4 linked regions of the Homo sapiens genome follow. The gene in region 1 interacts genetically with each later gene. Each region holds a gene or a part of one and is shown in the gene's direction. Other genes may lie near its edges.

What was found.
Region 2: of RPS10 (region 1) and ATG10, changing one suppresses a phenotype caused by changing the other (phenotypic suppression), as found in Homo sapiens cells (one large-scale study listed by BioGRID).
Region 3: changes in RPS10 (region 1) and CHEK2 are lethal when combined (synthetic lethality), as found in Homo sapiens cells (one large-scale study listed by BioGRID).
Region 4: changes in RPS10 (region 1) and CHEK1 are lethal when combined (synthetic lethality), as found in Homo sapiens cells (one large-scale study listed by BioGRID).

The regions. Positions count from the first base shown.
Region 1 is NC_000006.12:34,416,954-34,420,011, reverse strand, and holds the end of RPS10 (small ribosomal subunit protein eS10), read left to right. Parts: intron 1-1,587; coding exon 1,588-1,643; intron 1,644-2,464; coding exon 2,465-2,506; 3' UTR 2,507-2,558; downstream 2,559-3,058. Other genes in the region: RPS10-NUDT3 protein, read left to right, coding at 1,588-1,643. UniProt on the Homo sapiens protein: Component of the 40S ribosomal subunit. The ribosome is a large ribonucleoprotein complex responsible for the synthesis of proteins in the cell.
Region 2 is NC_000005.10:81,976,393-81,984,177, forward strand, and holds part of ATG10 (ubiquitin-like-conjugating enzyme ATG10), read left to right. Parts: intron 1-1,936; exon of another isoform or gene 1,937-2,457; intron 2,458-3,107; exon of another isoform or gene 3,108-3,286; intron 3,287-4,515; exon of another isoform or gene 4,516-5,025; intron 5,026-7,785. UniProt on the Homo sapiens protein: E2-like enzyme involved in autophagy. Acts as an E2-like enzyme that catalyzes the conjugation of ATG12 to ATG5. ATG12 conjugation to ATG5 is required for autophagy. Likely serves as an ATG5-recognition molecule. Not involved in ATG12 conjugation to ATG3.
Region 3 is NC_000022.11:28,735,321-28,738,820, reverse strand, and holds part of CHEK2 (serine/threonine-protein kinase Chk2), read left to right. Parts: exon of another isoform or gene 1-1,537; coding exon of another isoform or gene 1,538-1,561; intron 1,562-3,500. UniProt on the Homo sapiens protein: Serine/threonine-protein kinase which is required for checkpoint-mediated cell cycle arrest, activation of DNA repair and apoptosis in response to the presence of DNA double-strand breaks.
Region 4 is NC_000011.10:125,629,520-125,637,304, forward strand, and holds part of CHEK1 (serine/threonine-protein kinase Chk1), read left to right. Parts: intron 1-3,643; coding exon 3,644-3,832; intron 3,833-5,909; coding exon 5,910-6,014; intron 6,015-7,785. UniProt on the Homo sapiens protein: Serine/threonine-protein kinase which is required for checkpoint-mediated cell cycle arrest and activation of DNA repair in response to the presence of DNA damage or unreplicated DNA.

The DNA.
Region 1 (3,058 bases):
ACTTGGAAGGCCAAGGCAAGAGGATTGTTTTGAGCCCAGGAGTTTGAGATACAGTGAGCTATGATCTTGTTGCTACATTCCAGCCTGGGCAACAGAGTGAGACCCTGCCCCCCGCACCAACTCAAATAAATCAGGGCCGGGCGCGGTGGCCCACTCCTGTAATCCCAGCACTTTGGGAGGCCGAGGCGGGCAGATCACCTGAGGTCAGGAGTTTGAGACCAGCCTGGACAACATGGTGAAACCCCGTCTCTACTTAAAATACAAAAAATTAGCCAAGCGTGGTGGTATGCACATGTAGTCCCAGCTACTCGGAGCATGAGGCAGGAGAATCGCTTGAACCCAGGAGGTGAAGGTTGCAGTGAGCTGAGATTGCATCATTGCACTCCAGCCTCAGGGACAAGAGTGAGACTTCGTCTCAAAAAAAAAAAATAAGTAAATAAATACAAATAAATCGGTTTAAAAAATATCTAAACGTGTTAATTTAACATGTAATCAGTATAAAGAGTAGTGAAATATTTTACATTCTTTTTTTCTTAAGTCTTTGTAATTGGCTGGGTGCAGTGGCTCACACCCGTAATTCCAGCACTTAGGGAGGCTGAGGCAGGCAGATCACTTGAGCTCAGGAGTTCTAGACCAGCCCGGGCAACATGGCAGAACCCCATCTCTACAAAAAATATAAAAATTAGGGCTGGGTGCGGTGGCTCATGCCTGTAATCCCAACACTTCAGGAGGCCGAGGTGGGCGGATCACTTGAGGTTGGGAGTTTGAGACCAGCCTGGAGAAACCAACATGAAGAAACCCCATCTCTACTAAAAATACAAAAAAATTAGCCATGCATGGTGGCGCATGCCTGTAATCCCAGCTACTCGGGAGGCTGAGGCAGGAGAATCGCTTGAACCTGGGAGGCGGAGGTTGCAGTGAGCCGAGATCGCGCCATTGCACTCTAGCCTGGGCAACAAGAGCGAAATTCAGTCTCAAACGAACAAAAAATATAAAAATTAGCTGCCTGTAGTCCCACCTGAGGTGGGAGGATCGCTTGAGCCCATGAGGCAGAGGTTGTAGTGAGCTGAGATCGTACCACTGCACTCCATCCTGGGTGACAGAGTAAGACCCTGTCTCAAATAAGTAAAAGAAAACTGGTGAATTTTGCACACGTCTCCATTTGAACTGTGACTGGGATATAGGACCGGGCAGCATCTTGTCTGCTTTTCTCCCATGGTGGTAATTAAGGCTTTTGTGGGCCCTTCCCTTTACATGTTAGTTCTTCCATAATTACACTCCCTTTGTTATCTAGATGCTGCTGTGAAGTGGGTAAGTCAGTCAGTGTGATAGGAAGTAGGAATCCTTTGGGAGGATTTATAGTTTGGGCTGTGAGTATTGAAGGGTGACATAAGGAAGGCTGAGAAGGGTGCCCCAGGAGAGACAAAGGTGGCTCAGAAGGTATTCCCCACCACTGGTGTAATTTGCTTATATTTAACGGAGTGGTACTTGGCTTTTCCTGCAAGATTGGAGTCAGTGAGTTGTCTTCCCTTGTTCTATAGTAGATTAGATCATATGATGATTCTAAATCGATGTTTCACTTTCTAGCTGGTGCCGACAAGAAAGCCGAGGCTGGGGCTGGGTCAGCAACCGAATTCCAGTTTGTGAGTATCTTCCTATTTGTTTTCCATGAGCCATCACTTGTTCTGGCCTCAGTCTGGTTGCTCTGCAAGTTGTGGGGATGTCATATAGTATGGGTGGGTCCTGTCAACCAGTTCCCTCCTCCCACTTTTTTCCAAATTCCAAATTTTACATTGAGTTGTAGCATGCAAACTTTTGTAAATACATAAATTACTGAAATGAGTCTCAGAAATCAGTACATGTGGCCTACTAGTATTTTCTGTTTCATTAATGCTTGACATTGAACTAAACACTGGAAGGTGGGTGGGCTTAAGAACCAAGATGGTATGAAATCAAATCCTCCATCTTTTTTCAGTTGATGTAATGTTAGGTAGGTTCCCCTCTGCCTCAGTTTCTCCATCTATAAAATAAGGTGATAATTACAGCTACTAAGGTAGTTGTGAGATTAGTTAATCCAGGCATAGTACTGGCATATCATTTTTGTCCTATGGCAGGTCCTCATAGCACACGATTGCTCTCAGATAATGTCATTTGTAAAAAGGAAGCATGTACAGTAGAAACGGTCCAATCCTGGTGCTGGATGCTTTCATAGGAGTATGTATGAACACACTCTGGGTGGGTGGCCATACTCCCACTTTACCAATGAAGAAATGGGCCTAGATGTTAGATATGGCCCCACATCCAGTAAGGGGCAGTGCTGGGATTTATAGCCTGTACTCAGCTCTCTCCCAGCTGTTTACATTTGGGGGCCTCTGGAGTTATAATGAGGCCTGAAAGTTAGCAAAACCTCCAAAGATCAAACCAGAGTGCCGCTCATGCTGATGTGATGTGCTTTCTCTTACAGAGAGGCGGATTTGGTCGTGGACGTGGTCAGCCACCTCAGTAAAATTGGAGAGGATTCTTTTGCATTGAATAAACTTACAGCCAAAAAACCTTAATCTTTTGTCCATTTTGTTTGCATTGTGCAGCCTGAACAGGAACAGTTTAAGTGTCAGAATGTAAATGGGGCAGTACAGGCTTGGTTTGGGGAGTTGTCATTGTCCTGGGTGACACCGGCTGCTGCTGTACTTGGCTTTGGCGTGTGCCCTGCTTTCTCTAGGCAGTGCCTCCCTGCAGAGTGGTGTCCCATATGGTGCTGCAGTTGGAAAACTGGGTCCCTTCTTTAGACCAGCCATGCTGCCTCAGCTCAGCATGGTGGGAAAATTGCTGGTTGGCCTGGAGTCGTGATTTGTGCCTGCTGTCAGGAACTATAAGAAGTACTGGGGAGGGAGGATGAAAGGTAACGACCAAGGAAATGGTGCACTTGGAATCCTTCAATTTATGGAGAAGAAGCACAGGAATGGTGTTTAGGCCAACGTTACTAATCTAAGTCTTCAAGGCTCAGCGTTTGTTGACAAGAATCAAGGGAGAAAACAATGCACAAAAACCACTGTTCAAA
Region 2 (7,785 bases), on another chromosome or scaffold:
CAAAAACAGCTTCCTGTGTTAAAATAATTAATTGGGAGGCCATTGCCTGAGGAAGCTCCAGTGCCCTGGGTTCCTACATAAACAGACTTACACCAAACTCAGTGTAAATGGTTGTATTCTAGGAAAATGAAACTTTAGCTTAACCAATCAGAAACCATCAACTAACCTCTAACCACTGACTTTTACTGGAATGATCCAAGTAAGGCTACTCCACTTTGACCAATCACAGATTTTCTTGGCCTTGCTTCTGCCGTTCACTCTTCAAAAGCCTTCTAACTGTGTCCTTTTGGTGCAGCCCCATATTGCTTGCATTCTGGAGCTGACCAATTCATTAATATGCCTAGTGTTCCATTATTGGAACGCTAAGCTTGTGGGAGTTATTTATATCCTGCTCATGGTCATCGCCAAGGTCTGATTTTTCACAAAAAAAATTTGCAACCTCCAGCATAAATGGGTTAACCATTGTCTGCTTAAATAAACATTTTCTTGTTTTTGTTTTTTGAGACAGTATCTTGTTGTGTCGCCCAGGCTGGAGGGCAGTAGTGCAGTTATGGCTCACTGCAGCCTCAATTTCCTGGGCTCCAGCTATCCTCCCACCTCAGCCTCCCAAGTAGCTGGGACTACAGGCATGCACCACTATGCCAGGCTAATTTTTGTATTTTTTTGTAGAGGCGGGATCTCACCATTTGCCCAGGCTGGTCTTGAATTCCTGAGCTCAGGCAATCCACCTGCCTTGTCCTCCCGAAGTGCTAGGATTACTTTGCCTGACCTCAAATAAATCCTTTAAAATTTTAATGTGCCTTGGTTTATCTTTTAGCACCTAGTAAATATTTAGTGAGTGAAATGGAGATTGTGATCACAGATTTTAAAGGATACGCTGAGGCCCTAGAGTTAAATTCTCTAGACTTTGTTAATTCCTTACCTACTTCCCAGTATTTCTCAAAGGGAGCTCTACTGGCATTTTTACAGACAACTCTTCACTGTGTGGGATTGTCCTGTACATTGTAGGATGTTTATTTTACCTGGTCCCTCAGCACTAAATGGCAATGGCAAACTCTAACTTCTTTTTAACAATCCAATATGATCCCATTTATTTCCAAGCAGCCCCTTGAAGAGCGGGTTCCCCATAAAGTTGGGAACCATTAGACCTTATTTGCCCATACTCTTCTCCACCCGAGCTATGCTCCATCCACTGACATTTGTTTTATTTTTAAACCTTGCATTCTTTTCAGACCCTGTCTTTGCAGGAGCTCCTCAATCTTTTTGGAGTGACTTTGTCTCCACCTGGTTGGCCCTTACTCAAATTTCAAAATTCATTTCTTCAAGAATTGAATTCATGTGTTCAGAACTCCAAGTTTTGGAGTCTTCCCCAGTTTTGCCAGGAAGTTTGACATTCTTTTCTAGGAGGACACTCACAGCAAGCACTAGGGTATTGTAGGTACTGAGTGAATGAATGAAAAACTTGTGGAAATAGAAGGCACATTAGTCTCATCTCTGAACAAAGACTTTTGCAAGAAGAAAAATTTAAAGGGAATGTGCCTTTCATTACAAAAATGTCCAACCATTTCCTTTTTTTATTTTCCAAAATAAAAATATGGCACTTGGTAGTATATTTTAAAGACACTTTGCTCTGTAATCTGTATTCAGACTGGCACTGATTCTGTAGCTTCTGATATTGTGTTGGTCTTTTTTTTTGAGGCGGAGTCTTGCTCTGTCGCCCAAGCTGGAGTGCAATGGCATGATCTCAGCTCATTGCAACCTCTGCCTCCCAGGTTCATGCAATTCTCCTGCCTCAGCCTCCCAAGTAGCTGGGATTACATGTGCCCGCCACCACGCCCAGCTAATTTTAGTATTTTTAGTAGAGATGGGGTTTCACCATGTTGGTCAGGCTGGTCTCAAACTCCTGACCTCAGGTGATCCATCCACCTTGGCCTCCCAAAATGCTGGGATTACAGGCATGAGCCACTGCTCCTTTCTGTCTCTTCTTATTTTTTGGATACTTTTGGCCAAGGATACCCCATTATCTCCTTATTTCCTAATTCTGGATACTTGGCATATGTGCTGACTAGAGTTTGTTGTACTAGTCCTACTACCCACTGTTCAAAGGCAGCAAGAGAGTTTGAGCTGTGGATCAGCTCAAATTGTCATCAGTGGTGGAACATTTTTTCTTATGTGCTTGCAGAGTTTTATTAAAAAATTATCTTTTGATAAAAGTAATGATACTGGTATCAGAAAGATTGGATGTCATATAGATCTGTGGTTTTTTTTGTTGTTGTTTGTTTGTTTTAGAGACAGGATCTTGCTGTCTCCCAGGCTAAAGGGCAGTGTCACGGTCATAGCTCACTGCAACCTTGAATTCCTAGCCTCAAGTGATCCTCCTACCTCGGCCTTGCAAAGTGTACATCAGTTTGTGTAAGAAAGGTCCAAGAAGTGAACAGGCCTGAAAGTTGAAGAAAGGTACTATAAATGAGAAGAGGTGTATAGAATAAGTCCATTCAAATTTTTGAATTTTTCTTTTTTTTTTTAAGATGGAGTCTCGCTTTGTCGCCCAGGCTGGAGTGCAGTGGCACAATCTTAGCTCACTGCAACTTTCGCCTCCTGGGTTTAAGTGATTCTCCTGCCTCAGCCTCTGGAGTAGCTGGGACTACAGGTGCACATCACTGCACCTGGCTAATTTTTGTATTTTTAGTAGAGAAGGGATTTTGCCATGTTTGCCAGGCTGGTCTTGAACTCCTGACCTCAGGTGATTCTCCTGTCTCAGCTTCCCAAAGTGCTGGGATTACAGGCGTGAGCCACGGTGCCTGGTCTGAATTTTTCTTTTATTCATTTACAACTTAAAAAAAAATGTTTACTGGCTGGGCACGGTGGCTCACACCTGTAATCCCAGCACTTCCAGAGGCCGAGATGGACGGATCACGAGGTCAGGAGATCGAGACCATCCTGGCTAACACGGTGAAACCCTGTCTCTACTAAAAAATACAAAAAATTAGCTGGGCGTGGTGGCGGGCCCCTGTAGTCCTAGCTACTCGGGAGGCTGAGGCAGGAGAATGGCGTGAACTCGGGAGGCGGAGCTTGCAGTGAGCCGAGATAGCACCGCTGCACTCCAGCCTGGGCAACAGAGCGACACTCCGTCTCAAAAAAAAAATGTTTACTGTTTGCCTATCTGTTATAGATGCTAAGATACGAAGTGTAAATCAAATCCCCAGACATTGCAGACATTGCTCTATCATCTGGCATTTGTTGCAGTGGGTGAAGATGGCAGAGGCTACCCTGATTTTTGCTAATTGTAGGTAAACCTTTTTTTTTTTTTTTTTGCCTGCATCTTTTTTTCTTTCTAGTCTTTAAATTAAGATATTCCTGTAGGCTATGTTTAGGCATAAGTTTCTTTCCAGCAGCTTTGTTTTTTTTAGAAACATGGTGAATTCTTTCAATTTATAGGTAAATATTTTAAATCTTTTTTTTTTTCCATCTTAGAACAGTTTTTCAGTTGTACATTTGCTTATGATTGTAGTTCAGAAATTCCAGTTATTTGTAGGTTGGACCTGTGTTCTTTGTCCTTCCATCAAACAATATGCATTATTTTCATCATGGTCTTTTTTCTTTTGTGTGTTTGGAGAGGATCTTATGTGCTTATACACTGAAACACGAATGTGATTTTTTTCCAGCTTCTATACATCTCTCTGTTGCCTTGAATGTAGAATTTTTATCTCTACTGTTACGTGTTTGAATTTCCTTCCAGTTTTTTCTTATCCAGTTTCCTTTTTCATCTCAGCTGTTTTTCCTTCCTCATCTCTTGCTTTTAGAGGTCTTTCCCTTTCTCTTTTTCTTTTTAAAATTGGGAACATAGAGTAGATAATTCCTCGGTTTGATTTCCATATTCCTAGTGTAAGTCCATTACAGGAGCAAGCTTTCCCTCTTCCTGTTTATGGTAGTTCCCCTCTTTTCTTATGCAAGAGCTTCTTAAAGGTCTTGTGTTGTTATTAATGTTTTTGGTTTACTTACCTTGACAAAAGAGGGGCATGTTGACTGGTCAGAGTGACCAAGTGTTCCTTCGTCTCTCTCACTACACTTGGAAGCTGGAGGAATCTTCCTCTTTATGTTAGCTTGGAAAGCAGATGAATGGGTACAACGAAATTTATGAAGGATAGATCATTTTCTATACTTAGGAGAGGTCTTCCTTTCCTAGTGTTGAATCTTTCGGTCCTGTAACTATAATGAGGGGAGTGTTTTTGTGTGATTTGAAATAATTTATAGTTTTTTTTTTTTTAGTTTTTTGGGGTGTTAGTGGTGAGACTGTACTATGCTGAGAGCTCATTCTGTTCCTGCAGCTACCTGTCGCTCGCTGCACAGTACTCAGTGCACCTCAGGGCTTTACCTTCCACATCTGGCCATGCACACTGCACTACTGGGAGAGAACTGCCTTGAAAGAGAATTACCAGTGGAGCTAGAAACCAGGAGGGGAGGGGCAACTCAGGATCTGTTTCTCTGAAGGGAATGGGAGAGAGTGAAATGACCCTCTTTCCCCTGACCTAGTGATAGAGAGGTCAGAGCAAGCCTCAGCTACCAACAGAGATTCCTCATTTCCAGCCAGGTACAGTGTTGCCTCTCATTTAAACTTTGATTTGGAATATGTATTCCAATGGGAAGGCAAGGAGGGAGAATTGAGCCTGCTGGTCATCTGTTGTTAGGACTGATACGACTTCTCTTCTGATGTGTCTCTGTGCTATTTTATTGGATTGCCCAGGGCCATGCCTTCTGTGTCCCACCCAGGCTGCCAAATGTCTTGAAATCCAGGTCTTTTACCAGCCCTGTCAAAGTGATTCATCTTTTGTCTAGGGATCATGCTAATCTTTTAGCATGATTCCCTTTGAAAGTATCCCAGGTGCTAATTAAAAGTAATTATTTTGGGTCTTCAGAATCAGGTTATTTTTCTGGCCAAGGCCTAGGATTCCACATTTGAATTTGCACTGTGGGTGCTTCTTTGCTGTCTAAAATTTGAGGACCACTGCCTAAGGACCTTGCTAGGTAAGTGATTAAATTAATCTGAATCAATTCAAGCCAAATTGCCATAAAAGTAGTGGGTTGATGTTTAACTCTCCTACCTGATAGTGCATGTTTTTTAAAAAAGAGTCTACACTTAGAGTTATAAATAATGTGGAATTGTTGCTAGGAGGGACAAGTATTCAGGAAATTGCCTACTTTATTAGTCAAAAATGATTTTTAATGTTTAAATGTATGCATCGCATGTTCTGTGGTAATCACATTTTTGTAAATGATCTTAAGTTCTGGGAAATTCAGTTATATTTCTTATAGTGTTTTAGTCCTATTATGACTTTGATGTACATTGATTTATAGATTCATCAAATCAACGTCTCCAACTAAAACAATAACAAAGAATTAGTTCTACACACATTAGATTAAAAATCACATTAAACAGTATGGAGAGTGGTAGTGAAAAAATTGTTTTCAATTAAAAAGGATCATTTAAACAATGATTATATACAGTGTTAGAATTCACTAAGGCTGCTTTTCTGGAAAGATATATTTGAACAGCAGCAGAATAAGCTTCTTCTATCCTTCTAGTCTAAGGGCTAACTTACAGTTTGGAAAGACTACCCTCACTTGGAAAAACAGAAAATTATTCTATTTTTCCAATCTTTAGTCTCTGCTAAAGCAGTTAGAAAAAGGTTTTGATTGAATGTCACAAAACAAAAACAAAAACAAAACAACACAACTCTTCAGCCAGAGTAAGACTCAAGCAAAATGGATGTATTAACAACTTATGCCAGGCGTGGTGGCTCACGCCTATAATCCTAGTACTTTGGGAGGCCGAGGTGGGGTGGTGGGTGGATTGCCTGAGCTCAGGAGTTCGCAACCAGCCTGGGCAACACAGTGAAACCCCATCTCTACTAAAATACAAAAATTCAGCCTGGTGTGGTGGTGTGTGCCTGTAGTCCCAGCTACTTGGGATGCTGAGTCAGGAGAATCGCTTGAACTCGGGAGGTGGAGGTTGTAGTGAACCGATATCATGCCACTGCCTGGGCGATTCCGTCTCCAAAAAACAAAACAAAACAAAACAACTTATACTTTATGACATGAGGAGCGCTGACTCATTTCTAACCTACTTACAACTAGAAATGAGAGATTCATTGTTTTTTTTTTTTCCCCTTTTATTTATTTATTTATTTTTATTGATCATTCTTGGGTGTTTCTCGCAGAGGGGGATTTGGCAGGGTCATAGGACAATAGTGGAGGGAAGGTCAGCAGATAAACAAGTGAACAAAGGTCTCTGGTTTTCCTAGGCAGAGGACCCTGCGGCCTTCCGCAGTGTTTGTGTCCCTGATTACTTGAGATTAGGGAGTGGTGATGACTCTTAATGAGCATGCTGCCCTCAAGCATCTGTTTAACAAAGCACATCTTGCACCGCCCTTAATCCATTTAACCCCGAGTGGACACAGCACATGTTTCAGAGAGCACAGGGTTGGGGGTAGGGTCACAGATCAACAGGATAAGAATTTTTCTTAGTACAGAACAAAATGAAAAGTCTCCCATGTCTACCTCTTTCTACACAGACACGGCAACCATCCCATTTCTCAGTCTTTTCCCCACCTTTCCCCCCTTTCTATTCCACAAAACCGCCATTGTCATCATGGCCCATTCTCAATGAGCTGTTGGGTACACCTCCCAGACGGGGTGGTGGCCAGGCAGAGGGGCTCCTCACTTCCCAGTAGGGGCGGCCGGACAGAGGTGCCCCTCACCTCCTGGACGGGGCGGCTGGCCGGGCGGGGGACTGATCCCCCCACCTCCCTCCCGGACGGGGCGACTGGCCGGGCTGGGGGCTGACCCCCCCCCCCACCTCCCTCCTGGACGGGGTGGCTGGCTGGGCGGGGGGCTGACCCCCCCACCTCCTTCCCGGACGGGGCAGCTGACTGGGCAGAGGGGCTCCTCACTTCCCAGTAGGGGCGGCCGGGCAGAGGTGCCCCTCACCTCCCGGACGGGGTGGCTGGCCAGGCGGGGGGCTGACTCCCCCACCTCCCTCCCGGACGGGGTGGCTGGCCGGGCGGGGGTCTGACCCCCCCCACCTCCCTCCCGGACGGGGCAGCTGGCCGGGCGGGGGGCTGACCCCCCCCACCTCCCTCCCGGATGGGGCCGCTGGCCGGGCAGAGGGGCTCCTCACTTCCCAGTAGGGGCGGCCGGGCAGAGGCGCCCCTCACCTCCCCGGACGGGGCGGCTGGCCGGGCGGGGGGGCTGACCCTCCCACCTCCCTCCCGGACGGGGTGGCTGCCGGGCGGAGACGCTCCTCACTTCCCAGATGGGGTGGCTGCCGGGCGTAGGGGCTTCTCACTTCTCAGACAGGGCGGCTGCTGGGCGGAGGGTCTCCTCACTTCTCAGATGGGGCGGCCAGGCAGAGACGCTCCTCACCTCCCAGACGGGGTCGTGGCCAGGCAGAGACGCTCCTCACATCCCAGACGGGGCAGCGGGGCAGAGGCGCTCCCCACATCTCAGACTATGGGCGGCCGGGCAGAGACACTCCTCACTTCCTAGATGGGATGGCGGCCGGGAAGAGGCGCTCCTCACTTCCTAGATGGGATGGCGGCCGGGCAGAGACGCTCCTCACTTTCCAGACGGGGTGGCAGCCAGGCAGAGGCTGCAATCTCGGCACTTTGGGAGGCCAAGGCAGGCGGCTGGGAGGTGGAGGCTGCAGCGAGCCGAGATCACGCCACTGCACTCCAGCCTGGGCACCATTGAGCACTGAATGAACCAGACTCCGTCTGCAATCCCGGC
Region 3 (3,500 bases), on another chromosome or scaffold:
TTTTAGCTTGATGAAATCCCAGTTGTCTGTTTTTGCTTTAGTTGCCTGTGCTTTTGAGGTCTTACGTAAAAACCCTGTGCCCAAAAAACCTGTGCCCAAGATGAGTGTCCTGGAGCACTTCCCCAGTGTTTTCTTCTAGTAGTTTTATAGGTTTTGGGACTGGATTTCTGTCTACAGTCCTGGAGTTTTGCTGCCCTCACTTTGGTTTTTCACTCACTTCTCTGCATGGCTTTCCAATAGCAATAGCTCCCAGATAGCAAGCATGGGTGGGTGGGGGGAGTATTACATGCGTCACTTCACTTAATCCTCATGGTCTGTCTACTTATTTTCAGATGAGAAAACAGGTTTAGAGAAGTTGTGATCTACCTAAAGTCATGCACAGTTTCACTCAAGTGTCTGACTCCAGATCCGCTTGCCTCTAATCTCTCATAGTAACTTGTTGACACATTTTCTCCAGTTGTCCTGTCTTGCTTAAAAAGCTGTGGGGAAGACTCAGCCTGGCTCAGGTAGTATTAGACCAGCAGTCCCTGGTGTGGCATACTCAGTTTTGGCATTGCCTTCCTGGTATGTTTTAAAGAAAACTCATCAGAACCTTTGTATCTTTTTTATTTTCCTTGAGACAGGGTCTCGCTCTGTCACCCAGGCTGGAGTGCAGGCTCGATCACGGCTCACTGCAGCCTCAACCTCCTGGACTCAAGTGATCCTCCCACCTCAGCTTCCCAAGTAGCTGGGACTACAGGTGCACACCACCATGCCCTGCTAATTTTTTGTATTTTCTGTAGATACTGGATTTCACCATGGTGCCCAGGCTGGTCTTGAATTCCTGGGCTCAAGCAATCTACCTGCGTTGGCCTCCCAAAGTGCTGGGATTACAGACATGAACCACCACACCTGGCAGAACCTTTGTATCTTGAAAGCTGTGTAAATACAATCAGTGTGGGTATCTTAGTCCCTCCTTATCAGCGGTAGTAGTTTCACTTACCAATGGTCAGCTGCGATCTGAAACTATTAAGTGGAAAATTCATAAGAAATAGTCAATTCATGGCTGGGCATGGTGGCTCAGGCCTGTAATCCTAGCAGTTTGGGAGGCTGAGGTGGACCTGAGGATCACCTGAGGTCTGCAGTTTGAGACCAGGCTGGCCAATACGGTGAAAACCCTGTCTCTACTAAAAAAAATATACAAATTAGCCGGGCATGGTGGTGTGCGCCTGTAATCCCAACTACTTGGAAGGCTGAAGCAGGAGAATTGCTTGAACCCAGGAGGTGGAGGTTGCAATGAGCCAAAATTGTGCCACTGCACTCCAGCCTGGGTGACTGAGACTCCGTTTCAAAAAAAAAAAAAAAAAGAAATAATCAGTTCATAAGTCTTAAATTACATGGTTTTGCAGTGCTTGTGTTCATGTCACCCTTATATTTAATAATGGCCCCAAAGCAAAAGATGCTGGCAATTTGGATATTGTAAAGAGAAGCTGTAAAGTGTTTCCTTTTACTGAAAAGGTGAAAGATCTCAATTTAATATGGAAATAAAAAAATTTGTATGCTGAGGCTGCTAACGTCTATGGTAAGAACTAATCTTCTATTTGTGAAATTGTGAAGAAGGAAAAAGAAAGTTGTGCATAATTTATATAGGGTTCTGTACTATGCGAGGTTTCAGGCATCCACTGGGGGGTCTTGGATCTTATCCCCCTCTGATGGTGGGGACTACTATAGTGTTGTTTCCTATGTTCTCCTAGAGTAGTAGCCTGAGTTTGGGGAGGAAGAGAATGCCCTCCTCTCCCTCCCTTTTTTTTGTTAATCCGATTAGGTCAGCAGTGGATGTTACTTTGATTTTACTGGTGGTTCTGTTATCAGAGTCTTGGTTTGTTTTCTGTTCTTTGGAGATAGGGTCTCACTCTGCCACCCAGGCTGGTATGTAAGTGGTATGATCATAGCTCACTGCAGCCTTCAACTCCTGGGCTCAAGTGATCCTCCCACCTCACCTTCCTGAGTAGCTGAGCCCACAGCTGCATGCCATCATGTCTAATTTTCTTATTTTTTGTACGGGGGGCGGGGGGGGTCCCACTATGTTGGCCAGGCTGGTATTGAACTCGTGGCCTCAAGTGGTCCTCTTGCCTTGGCCTCCCAAAGTGCTGGGATTACAGGTATGAGCCACTGCACCCAGCCTGTTATGACAGTCTAACTGTCTATCAGGTTAATTCTAAGACAAGGGTGGAAGCCTCTGTTACGGTCTCCAGTTTATAAAAGAATGGTTCCTGCAAGATTACATCAAGGCCGGAAGGCCATTTAGGATGCTGAAAAGATAAGCCCTATGGTTATTTAGCATCACAAAGGGATAGGTGGAGTTGTTAAGAGCTGTCTTCCTTTGTGTTCTGCCTCATTAAGTCACTGGGTCCTTAGGTGTCAGGGAATATAGATTGAACGAACAGGTGTGTTTCACTTTAGGAGCAAGCCTGGGGGAAAAGGGGTACCAGTGACATTTTATGTAAATGGACCCTTTGGAGTAATGCAGCAGGTTATTGTACAATTTCTTTTTGACTTTTATATCAAGCCACCTGATTTTTTGTCTTCTTTTGCTTTCCAAAGTACACAGATGCTCCTCAACTTTCAATGGCATTATGTCTAAATAAAACCATTCTAAGTTGAAAATATTGTTAAATTGAAATTACATTTAATACACCTAAGATACCAAACGTCATAGTTTAGCCTAGCCTCCTTTAAACATGCTCAGAACACTTATGTCAGGGTACAGTTGGGCAAAATTATCTAACACAAAGATTATTGTTATTATTTTTTGTAGAGGTGGGGTCTCAAACACCTGCCCTCAAGCAATCCTCCTACCTCCACCACCCGAAATATTGGGTTTACAGTTGTGAGTCACTGCACCTGGCCTATTTTATTTTATTTTAAAATTTTATTTATTTAATTAATTAATTTTTTTGAGACAGGGTTTCACTCCTGTCACCCAGGCTGGAGTGCAGTGGCGCGATCTCAGCTCAGTGCAACCTCTGCCTCCTGGGCTCGAGCAATTCTCCTGCTTCAGCCTCCTGAGTAGCTGGAACTACAGGCGCCTGCCACCACACCCGGCTAATTTTTGTATTTTTAGTGGACACGGGGTTTGACTGTGTTGGCCAGGCTGGTCTTGAACTCCTGATCTCAGGTGATCTACCTGCCTTGACCCCCCAGAGTTCTGGGATTATAGGTGTGAGCCACTGCACCTGGCCACCTGGCCTATTTTATAATAAGGTGTTAAATATCTCATGTAATTACTTGAATACTGTACTGAAGGTGAAAACCAGAATGGTTATGTGAGGACTTGGAGAAGTAAGTGTCTACTGATTGCTTTCACAGAAAGTCTAAACATTGTTAAATAGAAGCATTGTTAAATTGAGGACTGTATATATGAGTTTTTTTTTTTGAAACGGAGTCTTGCACTGTTGCCCAGGCTGGAGTGCAGTGGTGCAATCTTGGTTCACTGCAACCTCTGCCTCCCGGGCTCAAGC
Region 4 (7,785 bases), on another chromosome or scaffold:
AATTACCTAATTATTTTAATATAGCCATACAAGGCAAAATCAAGTCTTTTTGCATTACTGGAATTTCAAGACAAGATCTGAAAAATCAAGGAAATTTTGGAGACTTCGTATATTTGGAAATCACAAGTCTCATTTTGCAATACAAGTGCGGATCAGGTAGAGAAATCTGACCTAGGTGCAAGCCTAGCTCACTATATGTATAAGAATAATTTTTTTTTTTTTGATACAGGCTCACTGTGTTGTCCAGTCTGGGGTGCACTGTATTATCACAGTTCACTGCAGCCTTGACCTCCTAGGCTCAAGCAATCCTACCATCTCAGCTTCCCGAGTAGCTAGGACCAACCACAGGCAGGTGCCACCATGCCTGGCTAATTTTTGATTTTTTGAAGAGGTGGAGTCTTCCTGTGTTGCTCAGGCTAGTCTTGAACTCCTGGACTCAAGCAGTTTACCAGCCTTAGCCTCCCAGAGTGTTGGGATTATAGACGTGAGCCACCATGCCTGGCCAAGAATAGTTTAAAATAATCCTTTAATGGATTAATAAAGGGAAGTTCCTGTGGAATACCCTGGACCTTAGTCTTGTCCTGTTCACTCTTTTTTTATGTATGACGTGGATAAAAATGTAAGAAATTTAGTTATATTTTCTGAATGTCATCAAATTGAGAAGGATGGATAGCGAAAGCTTTAAGCTTACAGGGTCAGAATCAAAAAAGAAATGTCAGCTGTATGAGGCAGTAGTTTTTGTCTGGTTTAATGCTTTATTCTTAGTATTAGAATAGTGCTTAACAAATGGTCAGCTTTTTTTTTTTTTTGAAACAGAGTCTTGCTGTGTTGCCCAGGCTGGAGTGTAGTGACATGATCTCGGCTCACTGTAACCTCTACCTCTCTGGTTCAGGTGATTCTTGTGCCTTAGGCCCCTGAGTAGCTGGGATTACAAGCCTGAGTCACCACACCTGGCTCATTTTTATATTTTTAGTAGAGATGGGGTTTTGTCATATTGGCCAGGCTGGTCTCGAGCTCCTGGCCTCAAGTGATCTGCCTCCCTTGGCCTCCCAGAGTGCTGGGATTATAGGTGTGAGCCGCTGTACCCAGCCTATACATGCTTTTTTCTTATGTGCATATGGATTTTACTTTTTACCCCTTTAAACTGAGTTTATATGACATAAAAATCTTTATTTTTATTTAAAACTTTAAAAATTCAGGTACACAAAAATTCTTATGTATTATAATGAAATGTAAATATATGTATATCAACCCACCTGGTTTAAAAATACAACATTATTCGTATATAAGAATGCTCACAGTGGTGATGTTTTTAATATAGCAGGAAACTAACCCAAATGTCTGTCAACAATAAATTATGAAATGCATGGCTTTTCAAGCCATGTCACAAGCAGTGACACAAGCATGTCACAAGCAGTGACATGGATGAATTTCAGGTATATAATGATGTAGAGCAAAAAGAGACAGTTGCAAAAGAATTCATATGGTCTGATTCTGTTTATACAAAGTTCAAAAATATGTAAAACCTAGTATATTGTTCAAGTATGTAAACATGGAGAAAAAAACATGCAGAAAAGCAAGGGTATAATAAAACCAAATTCAGAATGGTCTAAGAAAGTAGGGGAGGGAATGTATTTAAGGAAGTATTTAAAGATTTCAAAGGAAATAGAGCATTGTTTTTCTAAAGTGAGTGGGTGTTTATTACATTGTTATTCTTTATATCTTGTATTAATATACAAGATATAATTCTTTGTTTCTATTTAATATTTAGGAGTCTTTTAAAAAAAGAAATAAAATGTTACCAGTATTTAATGTCCTCCTGTTTATTTCATCACAAATATATTCTTCCTTTGTTTTTCTAAGAGCTAAACACATTCCTACATTTAAATTTTATTATGTGCAGTTCTCTAACATAGCTGAGTATTATGTTGCAGACATAACAAAGTCCAAGGAATACTATAGTTATCCATTAGTATTTTAAGTGATTACTACTCATAAGTAATTTGAAACTCAATCTCAGTGGTTTGTCCAATAGTGTCATATTTAACTACTGAAAAGATAATCAACTGGGTGCAGTAGCTCATGCCTGTAATCCCAGAGGCTGAGGTGGGACGATTGAGTGATTCTAGGAGTTTGAGACCAGCCTAGACAACATAGACCCTGTCTTTATGAAAAATTAAAAAAAAAAATTAGCTAGACATGGTGGTGCACACCTGGAGTCCCAGCTACTTGGAAGGCTGAAGCAGGAGGATTGATCACTTCAGCCTAGGAGGTCAAGGCTGCAGTAAGCTGTGATCACATCACTACACTCTAGTCTGGGCAGCAGAGTGAGACACTTTCTCAAAAAAAAAAAAAAAAAAAAAAAAAAAGGGTAATCACAGTAGCTACCTCCTAAGTCAGATAGAGGTAAACATTTCATTGGTTTACATATTGTGTGAATGTACTTGATTTTTAAAGAAATCAGTCCCCTATTTTGAGACATTTAAGTTGTTTCTAACTTATAAAATAGGACAGTGATGGCTTCTATCAATTTGTGTAAAAGGCCAATATAAAAATTGCGTCATGCTATAATATTTTTTATGCTATAATATTTTTTATGCCATTAGCCTTTTTGTCCCACTTACACACTATTTCATGTTAGTATGTATAGATATACCTTGTTGATTGTTTTCAAAACCTACCTCCACATTTTCCATTGTACAAATTTGGACATTTATTTACAAATAATATTGCTATGAATATTCTTATGTTTATGAATTTGTGGGATTATTTCTATGGATATAGAAGTGGGAATTGCTAGTTCAAAGAGTGAATGTTTCACAGTTTAGTATGTTTTGCCAAATTGCCCTCTGATAATAGAGGGCCTTTTCTAACTCTTAAGACTGGGTTACATTCCTTTGCTCTAAGATCCTATAGTGCTCTATATTTTTATAACCTTCATAACAGTTTTCTATTGTCAGTCTTCACTAATTTATCTATTACCTGCATTGGCTGGCATAGTGTCTGTCACTAAGTTACAGTAGATATTCACTAAACATAAGTTAAGTCCTGCCTGCAGTTTTTGTGTGTTGAAGATGGGAAGTTAGGGTGGAAGTTGGGTCTTCTGATATTTTTTTTTTGTACAGAGTTTGTCCTCTTTTTCTCAGACTCTCTACTTTGAAGAAAAAAATTACTGTGGTTTGTTGAATTTTGGTGTGTCTTCACATATTTTCTTCTGCCAACTGGGTTTGTTTGCTGCTGAGAAAGTTGTGCCTAACATACTACTGATGTTTCCTTCCTGCCCTCCACCCTACCTGATGAGGGGCCTTGCTTTACTTTCATCTCAGGTTTAGAGTGCTCTTTTCCAGAAGGGCAGCCCCTTCTGACTCCAGCCTCTTTCTTTAATCTGGTCCAGACTGTTCTGTGTGTTGATAATACTTCTTTTAAGTTAATAGAAGAGGTGAGGCCTTTTTCTACTTTTAGCATAGATGATGATTTATTTTATTTTTTTAAATTTCTTTTTGTCTATTTTGCTTATTTTAAGAGAAGTTCTACAAACCTTAAGTAACACCAGTGATTTTTTTTCAGTAAAACTTAATTCCTGTAAGTATATCTATTTGCAAAACATTTTTATTCAGTGTCATCTTTTTTTCTTTTGGTTTAGATAACCTCAAAATCTCAGACTTTGGCTTGGCAACAGTATTTCGGTATAATAATCGTGAGCGTTTGTTGAACAAGATGTGTGGTACTTTACCATATGTTGCTCCAGAACTTCTGAAGAGAAGAGAATTTCATGCAGAACCAGTTGATGTTTGGTCCTGTGGAATAGTACTTACTGCAATGCTCGCTGGAGGTAAGAGCTATTTAATCATGGTAAAACTCCTATAAAAAGTCAGATTAGTTATACTGAAATAAATGAAATAAACCAAGGAATTCATGTTTATATAATAGTTTTTGTTTTCTTTTTTAAGAGACAGGGTCTCACTCTTGGCCAGACTGGAGTACAGTGAGCTGTTATAGCTCACTGCAGCCTCAAACTTCTAGGCTCAAGCAATCCTCTGGCCTCACTCTTCCAAGTAGCTAGGACCAGTGGTGCCTGCCACAAGACATCTGGCTAAGTTTTAAAAATTCATTGTAGAGATGGGATCTTGCTGTGTTGTCCAGGCTGGTCTTAAACACCTGGTCTCAAGCAAGCCTTCTGTCTTGGTCTCCAAACTGTTAGGATTAAAGTAAAGACATGAGCCATGGTACCCAGCTTTTATAGTAGTATTTTAATAGTGTCTTGATCGGTTTGGTAACTGCTGTAACAAAGTATCATAGACTGCATAGCTTATAAACAGCAAATTTATTTCTCACAGTTCTGGAGGCTGAAAATATGAGATTAGGGGTGCCAACCTGGTCATGTTTTAGTGAGGGCCCTCTTCCTGATTTGCAGATGGCTGTCTTGCTGTGCTCTCTCATGGTGGACAGCCAAGAGAGCAGAAGCAAGCTCTATTGTGGTTTTTTTTTTTTTTTTTAGACCAGAGTCTTGCTCTGTCACCCACGCTGGAGTACAGTGATGTGATCTCAGCTCACTGCAACCTCTGCCTCCCAGGTTCTAGCAATTCTGTCCCAGGCTCCCAAGTAGCTGGGATTACAGGCATGCATCATCACACCCGGCTAATTTTTGTATTTTGAGTAGAGACAGGGTTTCACCATGTTGGCCAGACTGGTCTCAAACTCCTGACCTCAAGTGATCCCCCAACCTCAGCCTCCCAAAGTGCTGTTTTTTGGGTTTTTTGTTAAATGACCAGATGTTGTGAGATATTGTGTCTGTTTTTTGTTTTTTTGTGGTTTTTTTTGAGACAGGGTCTCACTCTATTGCCCAGGCTGGAGTGCAGTGGCACAATTCAAGGCTCACTGCAGCCTTGAGCTCCCAGGCTCAAGCGATCCTCCTGCCTCAGTCTCCTCAGTATCTGGGTCTACAGGCGTGCACCACCACACCTGGCTAATTTGTTGTGGGTTTTTTTTCACAGACGGTCTCTCCATGTTACGTAGGCTGGTCTTAAACTCCTGGGCTCAAGTAATCTGCCTACCTAAGCCTCCCAAAGTGCTGGGATTATATAATTAGTGCCCTATAAAGATACAATATTGTCCGGGCACACAAGCCCTTATTAGACATTAATAAGCTCTTAATAAGAGCACTAATACCATTTTTTGAGTGGTCCCATCACCAGGACCTAATTACGTCTCAAAGGCCCCACCTCCGAATGCCATTGCATTATGAGTTAGGATATCAACATGACTTTTGAGGGGGATACAAATATTTAGCACATTGCAAATAGTAACTTATTTATAATCCCAAAGATTTTTTAAGCTAAGGCATGCATAGTTATTAAATATCACAACACTTATCTCTCCTGTGTATCATGTAAACATTTGTGAAAACAAGACTAGGGCAAGAAATGATTCATCTGTTTTTTGGTTTTTTTTTTTTTGAGACAAAGTCTTGCTCTGTCGCCCAGGCTGCAGTGCAGCAGTGTGATCTTGGCTCACTGCAGTCTTGACCTCTTGGGTTCAAGTGATCCTCTCACTTTAGCCTCCTGAGGAGCCAGGACTACAGATGCACACCATCACGCCCAGCTAATTTTATTTATTTTTTGTAGAGATGGGGTCTCACTATGTTGCCCAGGCTGGTCTTGAACTCCTGGGCTCAAGCAGTCCTTCTGCCTCAGCCTCCCAAAGTGCTGTGATTACAGGCCTGAGCTGCCATGCCTATCCTGATTCATCTATCTTTGAAGTGCCTCTAAAGTTTCCAAGTTGGGATTCTTAGTGTGAAAACCATATTGAATTAATTCAAAGGAAACTTTTCATGGATTTATATTATTATTTTTCCTTGAAATCTTTATAATAAGAACATTTAAAAAAACTGGGACTTGCTTTGTTTTTAGAATTGCCATGGGACCAACCCAGTGACAGCTGTCAGGAGTATTCTGACTGGAAAGAAAAAAAAACATACCTCAACCCTTGGAAAAAAATCGATTCTGCTCCTCTAGGTAACTGAATTATCTTGAGTGAAAGAGTACCGATTTCTTGGATATGAAGTCTTGTGCTATTTGAATTTTTTCTTACTTTTTTTTTTGTTTTAAACTTACAAATAATTCATGTTCGTTGTAGATAAAATAGTAACTATAAGTAAAAAATTAAGGAAAAAATAACTCTTTAGTCCCAGAACTCTGCAATAGATTTTTAAAAATATTTTGGGGAGTGTATATTCAGAGCAACTTGAATCTGCTCTTAGATGGCTTTTTACTTAAAGTTTTCATATGTGCTATACTTTGTTGCAAATACACTCGTTTGTTGCTTAATTATAGGGATGCACTCTAACAAATGTTTCATTAGGTGGTTTCATCATTGTGTGAACATCATAGAGTATATTTACATAAATCTAGATAGTATAGCTTACTATAAATCTAGGCTATTTGGTATACCCTATTGATCTCAGGCTGCAAACCTGTACAGCATGTTACTATACTGAGCACTGTAAGGAATTGTAACATAATGGTATTTGTGTATCTAAGTATAGAAAAAGTATAGTAAAAATACAGTATTATAATCTAATGGGACTGTCTGTTATACGTGTGGTCCATTCCTGACTGAAACATCATTAATGTGGCCCATAAGTATGTAAAATGAATATATGTATATTATTTATATGTGTTTTTATACAAAATGAGATCACACTAATAATATTTTGTAACTGTTTTTGGTTTTAGTGCGCAGCGAACATTCTTCCATGACTATAATTGTAGGTCTACATCGTTGGTTTAAAGGCTGTGATAATATTCTGCCATGTGGATATGCCTTACTTTACTCTTTTAATCACTTTGTTGGAGATTTTTCTAAATTTTCACAGATACAAAAGAGATATAAGTATCTGTGTAACTTAATCATGACACATACCCTTAAATTGTTCATTGAAATCCCCAGAAGCAAAATTGCAGGATCAAGGATGTAGTTTTTATTATTATGGCTTATTTTGTCAAATTGCTTCCCGAAAGTTCGAACCATTTCATCACAGTCTCATCAATTTACATTAAGGAAAAAAACTTTAAATAATAGTTTTTCATTTTTATTTTAAATTTAATACTAATGAAGTTGTATACCCTTTATGTATGTATTAGTTTTTTGTCTATTTTGCTCATTTTTGTCAAGGATATTGTTTTTCTTACCACTTTGAAGCTTTTTTTTTTCCTTGATAACACATTGACCTTTGCACTTGTTACAAATACTTTTCACAATTTATCATTTATTTTCATTTTGTTTTGCTATATTGACATTCAAATCTATTATCTTGTCCTTTGTGGTCCCTGACTATAATTTCTTTGGAAAGGTCTTCTACCTCTACTATTTAAAAGTTCCCTATGTTTTCATTTAGTGTTTTTATGGCTTCATTTTTCCATTTAAATCTTTGGTCCATTAGGAAATAATCTTCACATAGGAAGATACGTGAATTTTTTCTCAAGAAAATTAAGATACCTTAGGATGGTTAGTTAGATTACTGTCTCTTAAAAAGTTATTGGTAAGTAAATGTTCATTATAAAACTGTGTGAATAAGGAGGTCACGTGAGAACATGACATTGAAGTAATGAAATTCGGTATTGAAAATGGATAAGAGGGGTTTCTGTATCTTTTTGTTAATCTCGTCACATGAGGAGAAACATTTCCATCTGGCTCTTGTTCTCAGTTGCAAACAATTGAGAATCAGATCAGGGAAGACTACTCCAAGATACAGCAGCAGAGAAAAACTGCATGAAATTAAAGCAG